Linked DNA regions of Homo sapiens: regions 1, 2, 3 and 5 are each linked to region 4. The links come from fine-mapping of genetic effects on gene expression. A gene starts in region 4. Each other region holds a variant in brackets. All regions are shown on one strand. Distances are from middle to middle.

The links. PIP is the estimated chance that this variant, and not a neighbour inherited with it, causes the effect. A credible set is the group of variants that fine-mapping cannot tell apart.
Region 1: its variant is the best candidate, but not a certain one, in a credible set for the expression of SDK1 in thyroid (GTEx, PIP 0.83).
Region 2: its variant is the best candidate, but not a certain one, in a credible set for the expression of SDK1 in transverse colon (GTEx, PIP 0.51).
Region 3: its variant is the best candidate, but not a certain one, in a credible set for the expression of SDK1 in blood mononuclear cells (TOPMed, PIP 0.86).
Region 5: its variant is the best candidate, but not a certain one, in a credible set for the expression of SDK1 in lung (GTEx, PIP 0.68).

What each region holds. Positions count from the first base shown.
Region 1 is chr7:3,216,852-3,221,954 of GRCh38, forward strand. No RefSeq gene overlaps it. Among named protein-coding and RNA genes, the nearest start is that of SDK1, 82 kb to the right of the region's middle. The variant T/A (reference allele first, on the strand shown) is at 2,005.
Region 2 is chr7:3,473,698-3,478,800 of GRCh38, forward strand. All of the region lies in intron 1 of SDK1 (sidekick cell adhesion molecule 1), which reads left to right. Among named protein-coding and RNA genes, the nearest start is that of SDK1-AS1, 120 kb to the left of the region's middle. The variant C/T (reference allele first, on the strand shown) is at 3,096.
Region 3 is chr7:4,202,922-4,208,024 of GRCh38, forward strand. SDK1 (sidekick cell adhesion molecule 1) reads left to right here. Exons shown (of 45, transcript NM_152744.4): 36 at 2,958-3,073. Among named protein-coding and RNA genes, the nearest start is that of FOXK1, 480 kb to the right of the region's middle. RefSeq lists enhancers at 1-486, 2,566-3,067, 3,068-3,567. The variant C/G (reference allele first, on the strand shown) is at 2,113.
Region 4 is chr7:3,298,951-3,304,053 of GRCh38, forward strand. It overlaps SDK1 (sidekick cell adhesion molecule 1), which reads left to right and starts at 2,302. Exons shown (of 45, transcript NM_152744.4): 1 at 2,302-2,934. The coding sequence starts at 2,637. It overlaps SDK1-AS1 (SDK1 antisense RNA 1), which reads right to left. Exons shown (of 3, transcript XR_001744897.3): 1 at 3,279-5,103. RefSeq lists enhancers at 869-1,381, 1,382-1,893, 2,603-3,103 and a silencer at 1,779-2,328.
Region 5 is chr7:3,244,389-3,249,491 of GRCh38, forward strand. SDK1-AS1 (SDK1 antisense RNA 1) reads right to left here. Exons shown (of 3, transcript XR_001744897.3): 3 at 1-578. Among named protein-coding and RNA genes, the nearest start is that of SDK1, 54 kb to the right of the region's middle. RefSeq lists an enhancer at 1-704. The variant C/T (reference allele first, on the strand shown) is at 2,078.

The DNA.
Region 1 (5,103 bases), 82 kb before region 4:
GCCTCCAAACTGCAAGGCTAGTAGCTGGTGGAAATGGAATTTGCAGATCCAGATTTAAATTCTAGCATGGAGGAAACAATTAAGCAGTGGGAGTGGCCAGGCACAGTGGCTCATACCTGTAATCCCAGCGCTTTGGGAGGCCAAGGCAGGAGGATCGCTTGAGCCCAGGAATTTGAGACCAGCCTGGGCAATATAGCGAGACCCCCATCTCTACAAAAAACTTAATAAGTTAGCCAGGTGTGGTGGTGTCCACCTGTAGTCCCTCTACTGAGGAGGCTGGGGCTAGAGGATTGCTTGAACCCAGAAGTTCCAGGCTGCAGTGAGCTATGATTGTGTTATTCCAGCCTGGGCAACAGAGTGAGACCGCATCTTAAAAAAATAAGTAGGAGATAGTAACAATGGTAACAGTGACTATTATTATAGGCTAATGGCTGCAGGCCCAGGAACCTGAGCTGACCCCCATCGTGACTAACAGCCTACTGCAACTGCAAGAGTCAGGCTGACTGTGATAAGGGATTGCTGAGGAGGAAGGGCTTGCAAGGTGATTATCAGAAGCAGTGGCCCCTCACCTTGGCTTTGCCCTCTTTATATGCAGGTGAAGCAGAGGGTAAGCTAAACCTTACCTGAAGCCTCAGAATTCTTCTCCATTTACAGACAGCGCTGCTACCCCAGCCTGAAATTTAAAAAAAACCCAGCACACATACTCAGGGAAACACATCAGGAATTTAAAAGATCTTCCAGGGATGATGTGAGACCCCTTGATTGATAAAAATAACAGTGACAGAGAGACCGTGTGGCGTAGTGGTTGGGCTGGGAATCCAGCTCTGCCACTGACTGGCTGTGCAACTTCGGGCAAGTTTCTTTTTTTTTTTTTTAATTTTCTTTTTTTTTTTTTAATTGAGATGGAGTCTTGCTCTGTTGCCCAGGCTGGAGTACAGTGGCGTGATCTTGGCTTAGTGCAACCTCGGCCTCCCAGATTCAAGCGATTCTTCTGCCTCAGCCTCCAGAGAAGCTGGGATTATAGGCGCCCACCACCACACCTGGCTAATTTTTGTATTTTTAGTAGAGACAGGGTTTCACCATGTTGGCCAGGCTGGTCTCAAACTCCTGACCCAGGTGATCCACCCGCCTCAGCCTCCCAAAGTGCTGGGATTATAGCCATGAGCCACTGCACCCGGCCAACTTTGGGCAAGTTTCTTAACCTTCCCAAGCCTCAGTTCCCCCATCCATAAAACGGGGATGATAGTAGTTCCTATGTCAGAGAGTTGGGGTGAGGAGGAAATGAGATGCTTGCAAATGCCTGGCCCCTAACAAAGCCCACAATAAAATTTAGCTATTTGCAAAAGTGAGTCCCTCTTGGCTCCCAGGGAGGCTGAGGTAACACTTGTCAAGGGTGGGTGGGCTGATTCAGGGGTACTACATTCGTGTTGTCTTGTCTGTATGGTAGAAACATCAAGTCCCACTCCTAACCTCTCAGAAGAAAGTGAGTAAATGAAGACCCTAAAGTTACACCAGAGAAAACCTGTCAATTCCCGCAACCTTCCTTTTGCCCTGCACCCTTTCCCATCCCCCAAAGTACACTTGACCCCTCTCTAAAGTGGCTGAATTCTACAGTACTCTGGGGAGAAAGTCAAGTTCTTAGCTATGACGTTGGTCTTTTTTCCCCGCTTTTGTTAAAAGAAAAAATGATGAGAAATGTTCCTTTCTTGCATTCCTGCACCATCTCCTCTTTCTCTTCCTCAATTTCTTAGGAACGAAATCACCCAAGATATAAATAAAATGTTCTAAATAAAGCTCTGCCTAACTGCAGCGTAAGACATGTCTGTGTACGTTTGTGACTGTCAGCCAAAATAAGTTAACCTCCGATGGAAGTCATTTTCATGTAATTAATTATTCTTGTCGCAGCTGAAAGAGACAGGTGCATTATTGGTGTACTTTGGCAGAACTTCTGGGTGAACTTAAGAAGTCTGCATTTCAAACACACCAAACAACTGGAGTGCAGCT[T/A]TGGCTTTTGTTCTGATATTGTTTCTTGACTTGGAACCTTTATTTCTCAATTACTGCAAACTGAAAAAAAAATGAAAACAAAAGAACAGACATCAAAGGCATTCTGAAGTACAGGAGGTACGTGATGTGCCAATTAAGCAACAGGAATGCCGTCTATTCTGCAACAGCTGATGTTTTCATTCTCCCACTCAGAAAAGGGGTTTAGGTTGTTTGGGGTTTTACAGAAAAGCCACTTGTGATCGGGTAAGTCTGTTATTAGCAAGAGTTTTCTTTGTGTCATGGAGGTCAAAGTCCTGGCATGTTAACATTTTTGAACAAGAAAGAAACATAGCAGGATGAAAGAGAGACTGGCCAGGTGAATTTGCAGCTTGTTGAATGAAACTGTTCAAATACGGACTATTACGGAGTTGAGGGTCTCTAGCGGAATGCCTTAGGGCTCTTTCCTTAGCCTTCTGAAACTATTTGAGGCTGACCAAAGGGGGAAATGCCAGGAAGCTGAAGGAACAGTAACTGCTGGGTGACAGAATTAGATCAACCCACTCCAAAGACTAGTATGATGGGCCTATTGAACCAGCTGTTTTCCAAAATAAATGTTTTAGAAAATAGCTGTTTTCCGTTACTTTCAATGGCAAAAACTGCAATTACTTTTGTACCAACCTAATAAATTCTTGCCAAAACAAACAAAAAAGCCCAAAACCGAAACCTACAGCATATGAAGAGTTAACTTGAAAGCTACCTTACAATCTTACCCTTTCTAAGACATTTGGTGTTAATTGCTCTTATAAGCAGTATGGAATTATATTTTAAATCCAATTTGATATTTAACAGGTGAGTTTGACCGAATCGCATTTATTGTAATTGCTGTTATATTGGGATTTAATTCTATCATCTTATTTTGTATTTTTCTATTGCTATGTTTGTCTCCCTCTCTTTTTTTTTCTATGAATTGATGAAATTTTTTTATTCTCATTTTTTTCTTCTACTGTTTTGGAAATGACAGCTTATCTTTCTGTTCTTTCATCAGTACCTGTACATTTTTTTAAAATGGGTAGTTTGTGGCCCTAAGAAGGATAAGACATCAGTTTGAAAAGAGACCCTATCAGAGTAGCATGAATTCTGCTAAAATTGAAGCAGGAACAAACATCAAGTTTATGATGAACTTTGGGTGAAAGAATGGTGAAATCATTGATACTTTATAAAAAGTTTATGGCAACAATGCCACAAGGAAATCAGAAGTTTACAAATGAATAAGTTGTTTTAAGAAGGGATAAGATGATGTTGAAGATAAAGCTTGTACCAGCAGACCACCTACATCAGTTTACCAGAAAAAAATTAATCTTGTTGATGCCCTCATTGAAAAGGACCAAAGAGTAACAGCAGAAACAATAGCCCACACCTTAGATATCTCACTTGGTTCCGCTTACACAATTCTGACTGAGGAATCAAAGTTGATCAAACTTTCCACTTCATGGATACCAAACTGTTGCACCCAGATAAGCTACGGACAAGGACAGAGTTTCAGTGGAAATTTTGAGCAAGTGGGATCAAGATCCTGAAGCATGTCTTCAAAGAAGATGAAACATGGCTTCACCGGTAAAATCCTGAAGACAAAGCACAGTCAAAGCAATGGCTACCAAGAGGGGGAAGTGGTCCTGTCCAAGCAAAAGGAAGAGTGAACCACTCATAAGCAAAGGTCATGGCACCAGCTTTTTGGGATGCTGAAGGCATTTTGCTTGTTGACTTTCTGCAGGGCTAGATTACAACAGCGTCTGCTTATTGTGAGGGTGTTTTGACAAAGTTAGCCAAACTTTAGCAAAAAAGCTCTCAGGAAAGCTTTATCAGAAAGTCCGTCTCCACCACGACATTGCTTCTGCTCATTCCTCTCATCAAACAAGAGCAATCTTGTGAGAGTTTTGATGGAAAATTACTAGGCATCCACCTTACAGTCCTGATTTGGCTCATTCTGACTTCTTTTTGTTTCCTAATCTAAAAATCTTGAAAGGGTACCCATTTTTTTTTTCAGTTAATAATATTAAATATACTGCATTGACATGGGTAAATTCCCAGGATCCTCAGTTCTTTAGGAATGGACTACATATCATCACCTACAAACACGTCTTTAACTGGATGGAGCTTGTGTTGAGAAATAACGTTTACATTTCTTATTTTTATCTTTTAATTTCTTTTTCCCATAAAGTTTTTGAAGTTCCTTCATATTTTTATTTTGTGCTCACACTGGAGCAATAACTTATCTGGGTATAGGATTCTAGATTGACAGTTGTTATTTCTCCACAGTTTTGTGTTTTCTGGCAACTAATGATGAGCTGTCTGCCTAATTGTCTTTGCTTTGTAAGTAATCAATATATTCTCCCTGGCAGCTCTGAACCTCTTCCTGTCTATCCCTAGTAATCTGTAGTTTCACTAACATTGTCTATGTGTGAGTTTATTTGTATTTATGTTGCTTGGCACAAGATGCAAAATTTCTAACTAAGGACTTCATATGTTTTCACAAAAATAAACTTGAGCAGATAAAAAGACAACCCTTGTTCTTGGACAAGATGACTCAATACCATATAGATGTCAATTCTCCTCAAGTTACTATGTACATTTAATATAATCCATAAAGGCCAGGCACAGTGGCTCACGCCTGTAATCCCAACACTTTGGGAGGCCGAGGTAGGCGGATCACTTGAGGTCAGGAGTTTGAGACCGGCCTAGCCAACATGGTGAAACCCCGTCTCTACTAAAAGTACAAAAATTAGCCAGGCATGGTCGTGGGTGCCTACAATTCCAGGTACTTAGGAGGCTGAGGCAGGAAAATTGCTTGAATCCAGGAGGCAGAGGTTGCAGTGAGCTGAGATCACACCATTGCCCTCCAGCCTGGGCAACAAGAGCGAGACTCTGTCTCAAAAAAAAAAAAAAAAAAATCCATAAAAATACCAAGTTTTTTTTACTGGAGTTAGACAAGTTGGTTTGAATGTTCAAATGGAAAAATAAACATGCAAAAATAGAAAACCATTTAAAAAGGGCAATAAAGATTGACTAGCCTTCCAGATAGTAAAATATATTACATAGCCTCTATACTAAGAGTGTAGTCCT
Region 2 (5,103 bases), 170 kb after region 4:
CTTTCTAGTTACCTTCCTTCTACTTCTTGCTGCTGCCTCCTACACAGAGCCCTGGCTCCCACAGTAGGTTAATATGTGTAATAATGTTCAGGGAGTGTGATGAACATGAGCTGAAAATTTTAGACCACCGTATGGTCTGCCTATATTTTTCTAATTTTTTTTTCCTCTCCAAATTCGCGTATGTTCCTAGCTACCACAGCAGTGAAGGGTAGTGGAAGGAATGTGGACTTTGGAGCCCAAATAGTTTGGGCTGAAAGACCAATCCTTTCAGGCTCAAATGCCTCGATATTTTTGGACATCCACCTTTAACCTGTAAAATGAGGGTAGCTGCCTGCCATGTGGTATCATGCGCCTGTCCCTTTACCTGTCAACTTGACATCTCTACCAGATGGTGTTTTTTTTTTTTTTTTTTTTTTTTTTTTTTTGAGACCGTGTCTCTCTGTTGCCCAGGCTGGGGCGCGGTGGCTCAATCTCGGCTCACTGCAACCTCTGCCTCCTGGGTTCAAACAGTTCTCCTGCCTCAGCCTCCCAAGTAGTGGTGGCGTGCGCCACCACGACCAGCTAATTTTTGTATTTTTAGTAGAGACGGGGTTTCACCATGTTGGCCAGGATGGTCTCGGTCTCTTGACCTCGTTGTCCGCCTGCCTCAGCCTCCCAAAGTGCTGGGATTACAGGTGTGAGCTACTGTGCCCGGCCATCTCTACCAGATGTTTTAAAGACACCTCACATCCCTCCTGTCCAGTACCAACCCCAGTATCTCACCACTCAGTCTCTCCCTCCAGTCCCTTGGCCTACCCTTGACATGTTCATTGTTCTTTAATTCCTTTAACAGTCTTCTATCACATTGGACGTTTACCTCTCCCTCACACTTTGTGTCTTACCTGTTACCGTCTTGCCACCTCTACTTCCTACATTTCTCTGTAACCCATCCATGTCTTTCCACCTCTAATGTCATCATATTCAAATTATTGCCATCTCGCACCTGGGTCATTACTTCTATTTTTATTTTTTGAGACAGGGTCTTACTCTGTCACCCAGGCTGCAGTGCAGTGGCATGATCATAGCTCACTGCAGGCTGGAACTCCTGGGTTCAAGCGATCTTCCTACCACAACCTCTTCAATGGTGGGGACTATATAGGTGTGCACCATCATACCTGGCTAATGTTTTAATTTTTGTAGAGACAGGGTCTCCTTATGTTGTCCAAGCTGGTATTGAACTCCTGGGCTCAAGTGAGCCTCCTTCCTGGCCTACCAAAATTCTGGAATTGCAGGTGTGAGCCACCGTGTCCAGCCCTGACCCATTGTATCATCCTAACTGATACCCCTGCATTCACTTGGTACTCTCCCGTCCATTTTCCACATGGCAACCAGGATGATAATTTTAAAACACATTTAATCATGATATCCTCTTGCTTAAAGCTCTTTGATTCCTTCCCCTTGTTCCATTCTCTCCCTTATGTAGAAGCTGATGACTAGTTAGTTCCAGGGTCTGGAACCTGAACTCTCCCTCCTGCTCTTTAGTGTCACTTGCTTCTTGTTGTCTTCAAGGCCTGGCCCTTCCTTGGATACTTGTTCTCCCCTCTGTCTGGAAGTGCTGCTTCTTGCTCTCTGGAGCCCTCCCCAGCCCTGCCCCTTAACTGCCCCACCTATTCGCACTGGTTCATAGCAGCTCATTCTCCAGTCTTCCTCCTTTGAGCCCCCTCGGGTGTGGGGCTCCTCCAGAGCAGCGTTTCCACCCTTGGAGCACGTCTCTCTCACTTGGTGCTGCGATGACTTGATTTCGCAAAAATCAAGCAGGACAAAGGAGATGCTTCACATCCTAGTTTTCTTTTTCCTCTAACGTCTTTTCTAATTGTGAAGTTTATTTTGATTATTAATGTTTCATTGGAAAGAAATTATTTCTCATTGATTGTATAAAAATCAAATGACATGATTATGTTATGGCCAGGTTTTCCCCCTCCAGATGAAAGTCCAGGGGAGAATGGTATTAAAAGTAAATAAATTTACTTAACTCTCAAGTCAAGATTTATGAATCATTGACTCAAAAGAATGAAGTATATTATATTTGTACAAGACAGTCTTCCACAGATGCACGGTTTCATAGTGGAACTGCATTTAAAAATCACCTGAGCTGCCTCTCTGGCTCTCTGTGGCATCATGTGGTACTTCTTATTCATTGCGACATGGGATTCCTGCCCAAACCATTAATTAAACATTTTGACTTTCCCTTTAAAATTCTGTTAGCATTTAGTAGCTTTAATTTAGTTTTAAATGCTGTTTATACTTCCTGCTTATTATCTTTTGGTAATTAAAACTTTTCCTATTCATCATCAAAAAGTCTGTATTTTTAAAACCCATATTTTAAAACTCAATTTAAAACCTATTTTCAAACAATTTCTCTCTGTTTTAGATTAAGTGACTAATTTTCTTTATATTCCGTTTCACTCATGAAAGGTTTTGGAGAGCTTCCTAAAAGGTACGATATGCATATGAAAACTGTTCCTGTGCTCTTACTCTTCTGATCTGCTTTCACCTTTTATGGCTTTCTTTAATGCCAGTGACTTGAACATTACACAGGATTCCATCACCCACAGCTGTTTGCTGTTTATACATAGACAATATTTTTCAGTTGCCGTTACCGCTCCTGGTCGCATCTAACACTACCAGGGCTATGTCTTCAGCAAAAGGTGAGTGGTAGTTCCAGTACTTCTTTTCCTTTAACCAGACATTACTTTTTCCTAGATTATTATGCCATTGTTCTCATTGTAATCTATTTCTACATTTCTGCCGAATGATACAACTTAGTGAAATCTTCTAATACCTTATTACCAAAAAGTTTGGGGTCATATAGGACTTTATCATTATTTTGTTTCAGAATACATATGTGTTTTCTACCTATGCCATTGTTTTTTGATTCTGTTAATGGTGGATTTATTTTATATGTTGAAATTTAGTATTTTTATATAGTTAATTTTGTCAGTCACTTTGTAGTGAACTTTTCCAACCTCGAATTTTTTCCTCTGTAACCGTTCACTGAGGCTGGAGTTTGGTTTGGATGACCTCATCCCCAGGCCCAGCGATTGACCCTAGTCATA[C/T]ACCCAGCAAGGTGGCTGACTGGGAACTCAGGCCTAATCTAACTAGCGGGTGGTATTCGTGACTATTAAGAGATGGGTGTATAACTAGGGCTTTTGGCAGTAAGTGGGGAAAGAGGAACTCCTCTAACTGGTGAGGCATGCAGGCCTAAGGACGGAGACTCTGTAGGCGTGAGGGAAGCCATATGGCTGAAGAAGCTAGCATGTGCAAGAAGAGGGCAGATTTGAGAGAATGGCAGAGAAATGGAACAAGACTGATCAAATGAGTCTGATTGTGACCTTCCTCTGTACTTTGGAATTACATGAGCCATTAAAGTACTTCCTTGTTTAAGCTAGTTGAGATTTCCTATTTGTAGCTTGAAATATCCTAACACTTCATTTTTGCTTTATGGTTTTCTCCTTTTTTTTTTTTTTTTTTTTTTTTGAGCCAGAGTCTTGCTCTGTCGCTCAGGCTGGAGTGCAGCGGCGCGATCTTGGCTCAGTGCAGTCTCCATCTCCTGGCTTCAAGCCATTCTCCTGCCTCAGCCTCCTGAGTAGCTGGGATTACAGGCGTGCGCCACCACACCTGGTGAATTTTTGTATTTTTAGTAGAGATGGGGTTTCACCTTGTTGGCCAGGCTGGTCTTGAACTCCCGACCTCAGGTGATCCACTTTGGCCTCCCAAAGTGTTGGGATTACACGTGTGAGCCACCCTGCTCGGCCTATGGTTTTGTTTCTTTCTTTTTTCTTTTTTTTTTTTTAAGAGATGGGGGTCTCACTCTGTCCACCAGGCTGGAGTGCAGTGGTGCAGTCATAGCTCGCTGCAACCTCAAACTCTTGGGCTTAAGGGATTCTCCTGCCTCAGCCTCCTTAGTAGCTGGGACTTCAGCACACACTACCACACCCAGCTAATTTTTAATTTTTTTGTGGAGATAGAGTCCCACTATGTTGTTCAGGCTTGTCCCGAACCTCTAGCTTAAAGTGAACCTCCCACCTCAGACTCCCAAAGCACAGGGATTACAGGTGTGAGGTACCACACCTGGCCTGCTTTATGGTTTTTTATATATAAAACGTATCATGAGAAGTTGGATGGAAATTTTATCTGTATTTCCTCTTACTGATTTGTTCGTTTCACAGGTGTTTGAATCCTTACATACAGTGTTTTGTCCTATGGTGTGTGTTAGAGATCTGCCTTTACTTTTTTTCCTAAACAGTTTCCCATATGTATTGAATTATATCCTTCCTATTGATTTGCAACATACTCCTTAGGAAACTTTAGGCTGTTGGTGAATTTTCTGTTTTGTTCCACTAATCTGTCTTTAAATCACTGTATCAGTAAAAAATTATAAAGTATTATCCTTTTGTAATATATTTTAATGTTTTCAGGGAAAATATCCCTCATTATTTTCCTGAAGTTTCATGGCCATTACCTCCCCTTTATTCTTTGGGATTAATTTGGGAGTTATTTTATGTTTTATGAAATAACTTCTTGGAGTTTTGATTAGAAGTTTATAAATTTTATAAATGATGAGAGTGTTGACTTATTTTTTGAGATAGATTCACTCCATCCCTTTTAATGTATTTTAGGCATAATATATTATTAGTGCTCTTATAAATGAGAGCTTCATTTTCTTATTTTTCAATTTGGGGAAAATTTTTGAGAACATAACTATGGTAATTATTAGAAAAATAACCTAGGAGTATCATATTTACATATTCTCTTTAAATATATTCAACTTTAAAAATAACTTTATTTTTAAAGTTGCATATTCAGTTATCACAAATTTTATGTGTATCTATAAGTCTTTTTGCATTTGTGTGGGCCTTTTTCTTTGTTCTTGATCAATGTTGCTGGAGGTTTATTGATTTTATTAGACTTTCCAAAGAATCAAAGGTTTTATTGAATTATTGAATCTTTATTTATTTTTGCTCTTTTATTATTTCCTTGATTCTACCTGATTCATGTTTATACTGTCGTTCCTTTCCTAATTGTTAAATTTGTTGAATTTGATGCTTAGCTTGTTTATTTTCA
Region 3 (5,103 bases), 900 kb after region 4:
GAGCTGCTGGTGCTCTCCACCCACCAGCAAATTAAGACTAAGTCAGGGCAGCCACTGTGTCCCAGCGGCTGCTTTTGATCCAGCTGAAGCTCGCTGGCCACTTAGGGACGGCGAGCACAGGGAGGTTGGGCGAGGCGACAGAATGCCGTCCTTGCTGCCGTTTGGGGCTTGGCTGCAGCCTCCAGCCCACCCCTTCCCGCAGAGGCAGGAGGCCACGCCATAACCCGGCTCAGGCCCCAGCGCCCAGCCACGCAAGGCCATCCAAGCAACCAGCCAGAATTCCAGAACATTTCAGAAATGTCAGGAATTCCACGATGGCTGTCAGGTGAGGGTCCCTCCAGAAGTCCTGAAAGCTTGTCTCTCATTGCCTCAGCAAGATCCCTCTCCCAGGCCGCAGAGGCCCCCTGGCGAGGGTACAGGACCCATCACACCAAGGACCTGAGTCACTCAGCTCTGCGATGGCATCGTAGCCTTAGCGTGAGACCCCAGAGAAAACCCCAGCTTTGCACCTTTCCCTTTAAATGCCAGTTGCAGGCAATCTCCCTAGCAGCAGACGCCAGCAATTGCCGGTCTAAAATGCTTTTTAAAAATAATTTCATGTATTTTTTTTTTAAAAAAAAAAAGCTTCCAAGCTGGTATGTATGTCATCCTTACACCGCAAATGCTAAGGTGGGAAAACAAAAAACGAACGACAATCAGATGCTCCGTGTCTCCCAAACTGCACACGCTTTACGGAGAAGGAGAGTTGCACCGGGGCTTGTCAATGGCAGAGCCTTCCTGAAAGTCAGGTTCTCCTGTCAGGGTGGAGACCCAGCGGCTTTCAGGAGCAAAAAAGAAGTCTCCAAACCGACACGCTTTGCTCAGCGTTGACATATATTTCTCTCTTCCCTGCTGGTGTCAACAAAAAATGCTTTGTTGCCTGCAGTAATTTTACGGTCCAGAAGTGCCTTGCTGTAGCATTGCTGGTAGGCACGGCAGTGCGGCTCAGCTGCCTGAGACAGGGTCATGGGCCTTTGCCCAGCTCGTCTCCACCCCAGAGAAAGGGGCATGCGGGCCCCTAATTTATGGGGGTTCACCTGGCGCTCACAGACCCACCAGTTCCTACAGGCGGATATCCAAGTCCAGAGCTGTCGTGGGCGCGCTGAGTTGGGCCATCTTTGGAAAGAAACCCTGGGGCTGTCGCGGGGGGAGGGCGATGTCTCACCGACTACCAGGGTAATGGCCGCGCTCAATTTTGCCTTTCACATTTTAATTGTACAACAGTAATTTTGCAATGGAGTTGCCGATGGCAAACATGCAAAAGACATTAACTTTATTTATGTTTTGGATTATTAATGTGGCTGTTAAAATTCCTCCAGTTAGTTTTGATTGAATTGTTTTTTTGTGTGATTCTGCTGTTTAATGGGGCGGTAAATAAGAATTTCTGATAATGAGGCTGAGCATCTGTCACAACAACCTGGTGTGGGCTATTAACATTTCCATTAACGGCAGGGTGGGCAGTGATAATACGGAAACCACACAGTTAGAACAAAATAAATAGTTGGTGTCAGGCTGAGTGGGTGTTAATTACTATTTTATTCTGCGCTGGGGGGAGAGAGCAGAAAGTGGGGAGGGGGTGATGGGGAAGGGGCGAGTCCTGAGGTCAGTCTCTCCCAAGAAGGCCTCTCCAGAGAGCCGGGTGCTGGGCCATCTCCCTCGGACAGCGACTGTTTTATCGTCTCCATCGATGGTCCGTAAAGACACTCAGTCAAAAGGCTGCACTCCTGGGCCGCAGCCCCGGCGGCAGGCGGAGAGGAGTGCTCGGCTGGCCTCTGCCTCCGGGAGCCAGGCCCCCTGCACAGCTGCCCTGGAGCTCCCCAGGGCCCAGCTCATGGACAGCCGGGAGAGCCCCAGTGGGAGGAGGGAGTAGCAGAGAATAGGCCGTCAAGAGAAAGTGCGCAGCGTGGAATTCAAAGATAGTGTGAAGCTGGCATGGGGCAGACAGGACGGAGGCGTTCTGGAACGCAGGCGTGTGCTCCCAACTGCCTAAATGGCTGTGTGGTGAGGTGCGGAGGTGCGGCCACACCCCTAATGGCGGTGTGGTAAGGCGCGGAGGTGCGGCCGCAACATCCT[C/G]ATGTGTCCTTTGGTTTGCGTGTGCCATGCAGCCCTGCAGACGCAGACAGCACCCCAGTGAGCTCCTCCCCAGGGGGAGCGAGGGGGCTGGAGGGGAAGACTGGATCCTCAGAACGTGAAGCCAGAGCTGGCCTCAGAGAGCAAAGTGCAGCCATGTTCTCAAACATCGGAGCTTCCTGTCCCTCTTAGAGGGGCAACTCTGTGTATCTGGACGAACTTCATCTAGATCAGGGCTTCATAGCCAGGGATGCCTGAACCTGTCATGGGAACACAGCTATCTTTTCTCTAATCTCAATCAGTAATATTAGTGACAAAAACCACAGCAGTCAGGAGTCCTGTGACTCCCTCGCCGATAGAGCCGCAGTGACCCTGTCACATCCCAGGCATTGCTGGGACCTCAAGTTAACATCCTCACCCACCAATGCTTTGATCTCACAGCAACCATCAGACCAGCCCCTAAGCCTGGTCAGGTATTAACCAAGAAGCACGTGGATTACGATCTCATACCTTTGGTTTCAAATACTCTGCTAACTGTATCTCGGTATAATTATTTTTCTGTGCAATTCTATATATTTTATTGTATGCATTTAAGAACATCGTATGGGAAGGATTTGTGGTCTTCCCTGGCATAAAAGGGCTGAGAGCTCTTAGGGGGACACAGAGCCACGGATCCCAGGACATAACTGTCTAAGGCCTCCTAAGCCAGGGCGACGGCCCAGGGAAGAATCTCTCACATGGTTCCCAGCGGAATTAGGGCATGCTCGAGCCCCATGGGCATGTGGGCGAGGGTCCGGGCCGGCTCTGAATGAACGTCTCAGCTTCTCTCCGCATTGCTCTTTCCTCAGCCCCGGCCATGGCCCCGCAGAACGTGCAGGTGACCCCACTCACGGCCAGCCAGCTGGAGGTCACGTGGGACCCACCACCCCCGGAGAGCCAGAATGGGAACATCCAAGGCTACAAGGCAAGGCCCTCCCGTGCGGTTGCCTCCCCTGGCTCGCTTGGGCACCCCTCGTTCACGTGGTCCTGCCTACTGCATTGCCAGCAGCAGACCCCGCAGGCGCTCCACCTGGAGAGCTGGGGCCCAAGCGTCGGAGCTTGGCTAGACCTGGCCTGTTAACTGTGGTCACAGCTGCTTGTGGGTGGGAGGCAGCACAGGGGCCAGGCTCACTGCACACCTGGCTGTGCCCACCACAAAACAACCCAGGTTGGGGGCCCTTGTTTGTCCACTGGCTTCTCCCCACTCTGGACGCATGGCCTGGCTGGGGAACCCTTCCGTTTCCTGGGCCCATTCTGGAGCCCCCAGTACATTGGCTGACTATAAAAGAACATGGGGCGCCTGGAAGAGACCAGGCTCCCCATCCCAGCTCCCCCCTTGGTCACAGTTGGACACTGAGTGAGTCCCTTGATTCGGTCGGTCCAGGGTGGGGCCCGCCAGTCTCATTCCTCACAAGGTCCCAGATGTGAGGTCCCTGGGAACCCTGCTTTGAGAACCGCCACGGTAACATGTGAGAAGCCCATTGTCACTGGAGGGTCTAGAGATGGGGAGAAAGGAAGGCAGCAGGCCATGACAGGAGAGCGTCGAGTGAGGAATCATTATGTGGGGCTGGGTTATCCATGGGGCGGGAAGCACCTCTCCACGTCCCATCCCTGAGGCCTGGCCTCCTTAGAGAGTACAGGGCCCATAAGCATCCGGGGTCTTTGCCATGAAAACGCCCCCATCCTTCTCCTAAATAAATTCCCCTGTCTATTCTGCTGGGACCCAAGTCGATCAGTCATCAGATTCTGGGGGCTAGCCTCCCCTAATGACTATTGGACCGATTAAATGTCCATTTAAAGATGGTTTTTGCAGGTGTGTTATGAAAATTAATACCTTCCTCCATGGCAGGGCTGTTACAGTGATGAATGAGCTAATGGAGAGCCCCATGAGCTTGGAGGCATGGCGCTATTTATGTATGTCCAAAATATGTTTTCTAATTTCCTTAATGATAAAGACACTGATCTTGGATATTGATCTCAAGTTAGCAAGGCCTGGGCGAGCGGAAGATCTTAGACGGTCAATTCAGTGAGCAGAAGCCCACTACATCCTGCAGGTGGAAATGAACGATGCTCACCAGTCAGGGCCTGCCCAGCAAGAGCAAGGCGGGCGGGTGTGCGAGGCAGGCGTGCCAGCCCTGGGGCGCTCCAGGCTGCCTCCCCGAAGCCTCCGTGCTGCCTTTTCACATGGGCAAGCCGCTCTAACAGCCTGGCCCTGGTTTAGACCCACAGAGCCAAGGTGGGTCTTCTGATTGGTGTTGTCTTTGGGCAGCCTGGCTGGCACTGGTCGGAGGTAGCAGTGGTTTCCGGCCAGCTGTCTAGGGAAGCAATTCTGGCAACCTCTTTAAACCTTTGTGCTTGGGCGTCAAGTTCAACTACAAGCACATAAAAGCTAGACAAGAGGAAATGGCACCCCAGAGGAATGAGGCCTTCCCAGCAGCCCTGAGCCCAACATAGTTCTCCTGCCTGTTGTTTTTGATTGCTTTAATCTCCAAAGTATATTGCCATATTGAGGAAAACTTAGATGTCGGCTCTGAATAAAATGTGGGAACACATCGTAGGAGTTGGGGGTTTGTTGTCTCCATAGCTCGGAGCAGGGGGTGGACACGGGGCGGCTTCCCTTCTCTCCAGAAGATGGGGGAGAGGGAGAGGCCAAAAATCAAAACACCAACAGAGCTAGGTCTGCAAGGAAAGGCACATCATCGGCAGCTGAAGGGCAGCTTCCCTTCCGTCCTCACAACTTATCTTCAACAGCGCTTTGTTTAACGAGGCAATGCTCATACTCTAGGTGAGCAACAGGAAAATGTTAAACATCGTCTCCCAAACAACATTAGCAGCCAGGGGTCCCCGTCCATACACAGTAGCCTCAGCTTCTCCCTGATTCCTCCAGGAGGGAGCCTTTCCACCTTCCCACCCAGCACAGCTCGCCCCAGAACTCAGCTCACCCCCTCGCTTTGA
Region 4 (5,103 bases):
TAGTAGAGGGAAAGGAAAACCAGCATTTACTGAGTGTGAATTATCTCACTCTGTCTACTACCCTGGAGATGGGAATTATTCCTAACTTTTTACAGGAACTTGGAGTCAGCGATTTGCCCAAATTTCACAACTACAAAGGGCGGAGCTGAGTGAGACCTCAAAGCCCCATGACTCCACTCTTGGATCACCAGCCTCTATCTCCCAGCAAAGCAGAGGTGGTTGGGGTGAAGAGGAAGGGAGGTGAGCTCCCGACCTTGGGCAAAACACTTCACTTCCTTTATTTATTTATTTATTTATTTATTTATTTATTTATTTATTTATTTATTGAGACAGAGTCTCACTCAGTCGCCCAGGCTGGAGTGCAGTAGCAAGGTATCGGCTCACTGCAACCTCCACCTCCCAGGTTCAAGCAATTCTCCTGCCTCAGCCTCCCGAGTAGCTTGGACTACAAGCGCACGCCACTACGCCTGGCTAATCATCTTCTTCTTCTGTCTTTCTTCTTCATTTTCTTCTTTCTTTTTTCTTTTCTTTTTTTTTTTTTTAACTGCAGACGAGGTTTCACCATGTTGGCCAGGCTGGTCTTGAACTGACCTCAAGTGATCCGCCCGCCTCGGCCTCCCAAAGTGCTGGGATTACAGGTGTGAGCTACCGCGCCCGGCCCACTTCTTTATGCCTCAGTTTCTCCATCTGTACCAGGGCCAGCACCTCTCACACAGCAGGTAGTGAAGCTGCTGCTGCTGCTGCCCTGGGCTGGCCTACAGTGAGTGCTCACTGCACAGGAGGTATTGCTTCCCCCCGCCCAGCAGGTTCTCATTATAATCTTGCAAGTTTGAAGAAACCCAGCCTTGCTACCAACAGAAGATAAAAACAGACATGCCTCTCTGCCTCCAGTCTCATCCCCATGTCCTTGGGGAGCTGTCCTCTTCCGGCTCGTCCCATCTATGCGCCCTCACTATATCCTCAGAACAGGGCACTCCGTGGCTCCTTTAACTTTTTTGCCCCTCCTAGCATGGTGTGGAAAGGGGGCAGATGGGAGGCCTCTTTCTGAAACCACCTCCTGTTCGGCGGCTGTACTTGGACCTCAGTTTCCCTGTTTTGTTCACGTGGTCATTGTTAAGTCTTAGGGGACGTGTACAGAGGCTAATATTGAGCCACCAATCAGTTATTTGACAAATACCATAGGCGCTCTGTGAGCAGGAGCTGGCTCCTATCCCAGACCCCAGCCCTGTGACCTGCTCTCCACTCGCCCGGGGTCTTTCTTGGCTGGGACAATAAACCTACTGCATCAGGTGATTCCTGGGGAGTCAGCCCCGTGCTGGGCTCACACCCAGCCCCTCTGCGTTCATCTCTTACATGATCTCATGCGACCATCATCACACGTCCCCAGGCTCCTCCCGGGCCAACTCCAGAGGCAGTGCGTGTCACCTCCAGCTCTCCTCCCACAAAAATGCTGGCCTTTCAGCCTCCAGTGCGCTTAGTTCACCCCATAAACTCTGCTAATGCTTACCACATGCTGAGCGTCGGCGCCCGTCCCCACCCCCAGCCCCACAGGCTCCCGGGTCCCGCCCTGGGAGACCCTCCCACTGGCCGACCCTGCCCCAAGACTCGCCCACTCCACGGTGGGAAACCTGCAATGTGTCCCTCCCTACCCCGCCCTCCTCCAGCGCCGGCCAAAAGTGACCTTGGACGCTTCTACAATGCCATATCCACTCCTCTGAACAGGAGGCGAGTTTGCACCCAGTGGTGCCTTTGGTTGCTAGAAATTAAAAACCCGATTGCGCGTGTTTGCAATTACGGTAACTTGGCGCGTCACCCCCAAGCACTGAGCTAGCTGGTGGTAGCCGGGCGCCTCTCGGGGCGCGCCCTATTCCGCCCTCGGCCCTGGGCTGCCGCACGATCTGCGCGTCCTGCTGCACCTGAGCCCTTCCCACTCGGGCGCCCGCACCGCTGCGGGGCCGGGCGAGGATGCACCACCCCCGCCCGCGAGCCCGCCACGGGAGCGCGTGCCGAATCGACGCCGCCTGCAGTCCCCACTACGGGTCCCTAGGGGGCGCAGCCGGCGCGGGAAGCCGCCCGAGCCAGGCGCCGCGGCCGGCACAAAATTGCAGGCGGGCGGGCGCCGCGACTTTGAAAACAAGCGAGGGCCTGGGGGGCGGGCCCTGGGAGCGGGCGCCGCCTCCCTCGGCCAATCAACGGCGGGCGGCGGGCGGCGGGCGCGGGCGGCGCGTGCGGCCGGGCTGTGAATGGGGAGCGGCGGCCGCGGCAGCTGAGGGCGAGCGCGACCGCGACGTGCGGGCGGGCGCACTTTCTTCTCAGCGCCGGGCGGGGGCGGCGGCGGCGGCGGCTCCTCCGCGCCCGGCGGACCCCTCGGAGCTAGCGCGGCGGGCTCGGGACTGCGTGAGCGCCGGACGCGAATTTCCCCCGTTGACAACTTCTTCTCGCCCGGCTCGTCCCCGGCCCGCGCCGCGCCCCTCACGCGGGGACCCAGGACGCCGCCCCTCAGCGCTGGGCGGCCGCTCACCTCGGGCCGGGGGGCGCCGCGCCTCCCGCGGAGTGGCCGCGCCCGCTCGGAGCCGTCCCGCCTGTCCTGCCCGCCCGTCCGTCCGGCGCGGCGCTCGGGGTGGCGGCTGCTCGGCATGGCCCGGGGCGCCCGGCCCTCGGCGGCCGGTGGCGGCGGCGGCGGCGCGGAGCCCCCTGAGCGCGCGGGCCCCGGGCGGCCGCGGGGATCCCCGCCCGGCCGCGCCCGCCCCTCGCTGGCGCCGCGCCCCGGCCCGGAGCCCTCGCGACCCCGGGCGGCGCCCGAGACCTCCGGCGGGGACACGGCGGGCGCGGGGCGGTGCGGCGGGCGGCGGGCGGCAAAGTTGGGGCCGGGCCGCCGCGGCTGGTGGGCGCTGCTGGCGCTGCAGCTGCACTTGCTCCGGGCGCTGGCGCAAGGTAGGTGCGCGCGGGGTCGCGGGCCGGGGGCGTCGCCTCGGGGCGCGGAGGCGCGAACTTGAGCAGCGAGAGTGTGTCCGGGGTCCCCCCGCTTCCCGGCCCGGGTCGGGATGCGCCTTGCTGGGGGCTCTAGGGAGCCCAGGGGCTCCTCCACGCCAGACTCGGAGGAGAGGGAAACGGAGCCCCGTAGAGCCTGCACCCCGTCTGCTACTTTGCGTTTTATTTTTTTTATACCGCAGTAGCACAAACAAAAATTTTTAAGTTGAGGACCCATTTCTCAGCTCCTTAAAAGGATGCCCGAGTCCCCTTCCCATTGCATGGATGAAAAAGGGGCTGGTCTGTACCTGAGTCTTCGCACCGCAGGGTCTGGTTTCCGGTGAGTGACATCCAGAAGACTTGGAAATATCAAGTGCCAGTCGCTGTGAAAAGCCTTTTCCAGCCCCTCCCCAGGGCCTCGTCCTCTCCCCAGCCCCCGCCTGCTCCTGACTCCCCCAAGTCCCAAAGCCCGACCCCAAGTGGGTGCTGCGCGGCCGGTGGAGCAAAACTTTCAGTGCCCACAGCTTTTGCACTTGGCTTTGTTTTTCTCCCTCTATTGGCTTCTGTTTAGAATACAGTGGTGAGCTCTGAAATAGGGAAAGAGGATCTGCTGAATGGAAATGACCTTTTGAAACGAGAGATGGGATCTCTTGTGAAACGAGCTTTCCTTCCCAAATCTGGGCTTCCCTCCACCCCCTCCCCGCCCCCGACAAAACCCGTAACGTACCCCTGCCAGCTAGCATCGTTTTCTTTTGAAGTTTGCTGGTCTTTAAACCAAAACACCCCCCTCAACCCAGAAATAACTATTTTAATACGTCCTTTGGTAACGTCTTTAAAACACATTAGTGAACTGGTTTTGCTGATGGTAGTTTTAGGAAAATTAACTTAGTTGTATTCCAAGATACAGCTAACGAACAATCATGGTAAGGAACTCGATATTCTGAGATTGGCGAAGATGAGAGCATTAAACTTAAATTAGCTGTGTTCTGTGTCCTGTGAAGATGATTTATGTGTAGTAACATGACTTAAATGTTGTAACATTTTAAAGGTCTGAGCTCAAAACTATCATCCAATAGCTTAACAACGAACTCATACTTTTTTTTATTGATGCTTATGTAACGTTATCTAAATTGTGCCCCTCCACCCCCCTCCAGCTTTCATAAATGCTCCCTCTTATGTTTTACTACATGAAAACAAATTGCCATATTTCTGGTTAATTTAACTCCTCCATTACTTGGAAAATTTTCATTTCACTTATTTGTGCTTTTTGCTTAATGACTTACTCTGGAAGAAAAGCATTTATTAAGTCATTTTGTACAGTGGGATCTGTAGATTGTTAGAGCAACCAGGTTCAAGTGAAGAAATCTAAATCACTTAGGATGACCTTTAAAATAATGTGTTTATTAAGTTTTCTTTTTTTAAACAGTGACTTGCATTTTGCACTAAGACCTGTACGTTCATACATTTGAAGATTGGTGCACAGACTGAAATGGTGGGGAAAAAATCTGCCAGTGGCTTTGTTTTGAAGTATATTACATAGATTTCAAGTTTTTATCAGTTGCACTTTGAAGGTTGTGTAAAGCATTGCATTTTAACAACTGAAATGTTAATGAAAATACATTTTAAAAATATATTAAGGCAACAACCGAACTTTGTTAGGAATATTTTATTCCTTTTTGGCAGTAAAAACATTGGTACCTGTTTTACATTTATATGGCTTATGAAAGTGTACAGATCTTTTAGTGTAAAATTTCAGATAGGTTGTCACAAATTTTAAGTTCATTGACGGGTTTCTGTTCTCTTTGCTCTGTGAAATGTGTAATATATCCATCTTTTTTTATATCGTATTGAAAATTCATATTACAGAGGAGATGTCACCATTTGACAAAAGCTCATGTATCTTGAAAATGAAAATTCTGGTGCTGTTATAAGAGATTTCTGATGGGATGATGAGTTGGTCATATGTGCAGGAGTGCATTCTCTTGAATCTTATCAGATGTAACATTCTAAATGGAATAGTTACCACTACGTTGGAGCGCCTCCTAAGTACCATATTATTACATTGTAGCTAGGTGAAGCTATGACTAATTTCTCTGCACCTCATGTAAGTAGGCTAGGTCGTGTATTTTGAGA
Region 5 (5,103 bases), 55 kb before region 4:
AAATGCGCAGTGACTTTTGCTGCAGAGGTGGGTGGTGACCATCTGGACTGGGCATTGATTAGAAGATAACTGGACATCCGTGTGACTGCATCCTTGGTGGGGGTCAGGGCACAGAGATATATGTTTGATTCCACAATGTCAGTGTGACTCAGAGACCCTTTTGTTGTCGTTGTTTATATTACAGTTAGTGAGTCACCCACTACACCTCCCTCCTGGGATGAAGTCCTGAGCTGTAGAATGACTCCAAACAGGCACGACTGCTTTATTAGCAGGCTTTGACTCCCATACAGGGCTCTGAACATCAAACAAAGTTGGCCAGGATTTGATCCTCAAAAGAGAAGATGGGATCCCATCAAGATGTCCACATGCCTAACGCCTGTTGGTCCAAAAGAGTCTCATTTTGTAGGGGGAAGAAACTTAATTACCAGCGCAGGAAGAGACTCTCAGAACATGTGGTTTTCAGTTTTGCCAAGATTCCAGGCCAACTTATTACTCTATTATCATTGTTGTTAATCTTTGCTTGAAAGATGCATGAAGTCAGTAAGTCCCTTTCTTAAGGACACCAAAGCTGGGAGTCTCTGAAAAACAGGACCAAACAGTGGACCACTGGTCAGAGGCACGATGTGAGTAAAGAGTAGCAGAAATATTTTTGTCATGTATCCACATTAAAGGGTGACTATAAAGTATGTTCCACAATGGCTTTTTTTTTTTACCCCCTCAGCAAAGAAATAGCACTCTATTTTGTTTGGAAAACCTACTTTGATGCCTCAAAAAAATAATGTGCTTTTCTGATTCTGATTTTTCCTCTTTTCTTTCAGCAACTGTGTTCTGCCTGTCTCTAAACCAGTACTTGGAAGGAATGTCTCTCTCTCTCTGTTTATATTTCTATGTTTCAGAGTCAACGTCATGGCTAAAGGAGACGTGATTTGCAAAAAGGCTTGTTCTCCAATAGCCAAGGAAAATATGTTTTTTAAAAATCTTGGTAATGCATTAGTTTTGGCATCTTTAAAACTCCTTTTTCCTTTTCTTTTTTTAGGGGGTAGGAGGACAGGGTCTTGCTCTGTTGCCCAGACTGGAGTGCAGTGGTGCAATCATAGCTCACTGAAGCCTTGCTCAAGCCTTCACTCCTGAGCTCAAGTGATTCTCTTTCCTCAGCCTCTCCAATATGTGAGACTACAGGCATGTGCCACCACAACCACCTAATTTAAAAAAAAAAAATTTGTAGAGATGGAGTTCTCCCTATATTGCCCAGGCTGGTCTTGAGCTGGCTCAAGCAATTCTCCCGCTTTAGTCTCCCAAAGCGCTAGGATTACAGGTGTGAGCCACTGTGCCGAGACTTGTTTTTCTCCTCTTTTTGTGATCCCTCCCAAAATTTGCTGTCAATAAACTGTGTGGTCCTGTGAGTGACCCAGGGCAGAGACAAGCATTGTAGCCCTGTCACCAACTGGCCAAAGATGGCTGCTACATGATTTCCCTTATCCAATCTAAAGGGGGCTATTGGAGGGGGACAGAGGGCCATCTGTGTCCACAAAACGAGCCCAGAGTTGGGACTGCTGGGACTATACACATGTGACCGTATGTCCAGTTGAGAGTTGTCATACATAACCAGACAGTGGAGGAGCATGGTGGTCAACCCAGAAATGATGAGTTGGGTTCTAGGGCTGACAGACTGAAGGCTTTATGAATGACCTTTTCACTTCGTTGACACATAGGTGACCCCTGTGTCCTCTAAATGGTGCAGGCCAGGCATCTTTTCCGAGACCTAATGGTTCCTTCTCTTTTATAAATGGCCAGATCGAAGGGCATTAGTGCTCTCAGGCACAATAGGCCTCAAAGGCCCCTGCCTCCTTCCTAAATGGGCCTTACTGCAAAACCCTAATGCACTTCCTCACACTGGGACCTCAGCTGGCTCTGTGCACAGGCCTCCCTGCAGCACAGGCCCTCCCTGCAACCACAGCAGTCACTAATGAATATTTTATCAGTCGCCATGCCTCTCTGTGCAGGCTGTATCTGGAAGTCATCTTTGCTGATTTGACAGCCTTTCTGCCTTAAAGGAGCCACCAGCAATGATGTGTTG[C/T]CATCTGTTTAGAAATGAGGACTCAGCCAGCCTCCCAGTTAAGCTGGAAAGCTGATCCTCCTTAGAACAGATATTTGAAAAGAGGGCTTTGCTCTCATGAAAGCCCACAGTCTGCCCCTGCAGTTCCCTTGTTACTAATTCCAGTGGGGGAAAAAAAATTAAGAAAATGTAGACCTAGAAGATCAGAAGATTGCCTCTTCAAAAGGCACTAGTTTCTAAGAGTAGTATTCCTATTATTTTATTTTAGATCTTGGGTGAATTCATTTATTTCTACAACAAATGTTTATCTAGTTCCTACTTCATCAGAAAAAACACTGGAACTCAGCCCGGAACAGGAAGAAGCTGACTTTGCCCTCGGAGAACAGACAGCCTAGTGAGGAATTCACTGACTTGCACATTCATTTATTCAACACCTATTTACAGAGTGACTATGATGTGCCTGGCATTGCTCCGGGGACAGGGATACACAGTGAACAAAACAAACAAAAATCATTCTGCTGGAAGACAAAATATAATCACACAATGTATATAATTATTAAATGCGATAAGCACAATGACAAACATTTCCTTACAAATGCCTTTCCTGAGATTCTATATCCAGCTAAACTATCATTCAGCAGTAAAGACAAAACCGAGACATTTTCAGATATACAACAAATAAGAGAGTTTCTTATGAGCAGGTGCTCACTGTCAGAGGAAAGTGAAAAAAGTGAACAAAGACGAAAGAAACAAGAGGCAGCACAAAAATCCAGGAAATACATTAACAAATGCAATGAATGACTGCAATTTTTGTATTTTAACAGAGAAAAAAATGAACATTCCTGAAAATAGTAAAATAGAAAACCAAGATAAAGGAGAAAGGATTTTTAAAATCTGACTTTTTAGTCAAACAAAGAAAGCAAACAAGCCTCTAGCAAGATTGACTTTTAAAGAGGGGTACAAAGGCATAAATAATAGCAGGAATAGGGCCAGGCACCGTGGCTCACGCCTGTAATCCCAGCACTTTGGGAGGCCAAGGCAGGTGGATCACGAAATCAGGAGTTTGAGGCCAGCCTGACAAACATGGTGAAACCCCGTCTCTACTACAAATACAAAAATTAGCCGGGCGTGGTGGTGCGTGCCTGTAATCCCAGCTACTCAGGAGGCTGAGCAGGAGAATCGCTTGAACCCGGGAGGCAGAGGTTGCCGTGAGCCGAGAATGCACTACTGCACTCCAGCCTGGGTGACAGAGTGAGACTCTATCTCAAAATAATAATAATAGCAATAATAAATAAAAACAGATGCAGTTGAGTTTTTTTTTTTTTAATTAGGAGAATGCAATGAATACCTTTATGCTAACAAATTTGAAAACTTAGATGAAATGAATAATTTTATAGAAAAAGACTACTAAAATGGACCCACAGCCTGGGCAACATAGTGAGACCCCCATCTCTACAAAAAATCAAAAAAGTTGCTGGGTGTGGTGGTGTACCGCTGTGTTTGGGAGGTGTACTCAAGAGGCTGAAGTGGGAAGACCGATGGGGCCGAGGAGTTCAAGGCTGCAGTGAGCTATGATCACCCCACTGCACTCCAGCCTGGACAACAGACCAAGACCCTGTTTCAAAAAATAAAATCTCCCAGCAGTTTGGGAGGCCAAGGCGGGTGAATCACCTTAGGTCAGGAGTTTGAGACCAGCCTGGCCAACATGGTGAAACCCTGTCTCTACTAAAAACACAAAGAAAATTAGTCAGGCATGGTGACACACGCCTGTAATCCCAGCTACTCGGGAGGCTGAGGCAGGAGAATCACTTGAACCCAGGAGGCAGAGAGGTTGCAGTGAGCTGAGATCAGTCAGAGGTTGCAGTGAGCTGAGATCATGCCATTGCACTCCAGCCTAGGCGACAGAGCAAAATAAAATAAAATAAAAAATAGAGCCAAGAAGATCTTTTAAATATGAAATAAATCAACAACTATTAAAGAAATTGAACTGGCAATCAAAAGTTCTCCCACAACCACTCCCACACCTCCCCCACCCCTCGCCCCCACCATACACACAGACAAAAGACAGATTGTTTTCCAGGCAAGTTACAACAAAGCTTTGAAGAATAGAAAGCCCTCATTTTATGAAAACAGTTTCAGAGACTAGAAAAAGGGGGGAAGGTATTGAAAGAACTTGATAAAGTTAGTATAATCAGGAAGCCCAAACCAGAGCCTCATGGTGCCACCAGGAGAGAAGGTCCTAGCACCTTTGTTCTATCAGCTGGGGCTCTGCCTGTCACGCTGGAAACAAAGGTTTCAATTACACAGAGTAACTGTCAGGAAAAGGCAGGTTAGCTGTTGGCTGTCTTTCACATCAAACTATGTGTTAAAGTGGCAACTTTCTTTACTCCGCACAGATCTCACACTAGACCTAGATGAGGCTGGGCCAGAAGCAGGAATTTCAAAGAGGAGCTTTACCAAATGCATCCTGGTTTATGTAAATGCAGGTGCCAATAATATCACTGGAACGGTGGCTCATGCCTGCAATCTCAGCACTTTAGGAGGCCAGGGTTGGGGAATGGCTTAAGCTCAGGAGTTCGAGACCAGTCTGGGCAACATGGCGAAACGTCATCTCCACAAAAAATACAAAAATTAGCAGGACATCATGGCCCATGCCGCTCATCCCAGCTACTCAAGATCCTGAGGTGGGAGTTTTGCTTGAGCCCAAGAGTTTGAGGCTGCAGTGTGTCAAGATTGCACCACTGCACCCTAGCCTGGGTGAGAGAGCAAGAACTTGTCTCAAAATAATAATAATCATGTCACTTCACTAAAAATGAGAAATCTGGAGCCAGATACAGTGGCTCACGCCTGTAATCCCAGCACTTTGGGAGGCCAAGGTGGGAGGATCACTTGAGGTCAGGTGTTCAAGATCAGCCTGGCCAACATGATGAAACCCCATCTCTACTAAAAATACAAAAATTAGTCAGGCGTGGTGGAGGGCACCTGTAATCCCAGCTACTCAGGAGGCTGAGGCATGAGAATAGCTTGAACCTGGGAGGTGGAGTTTG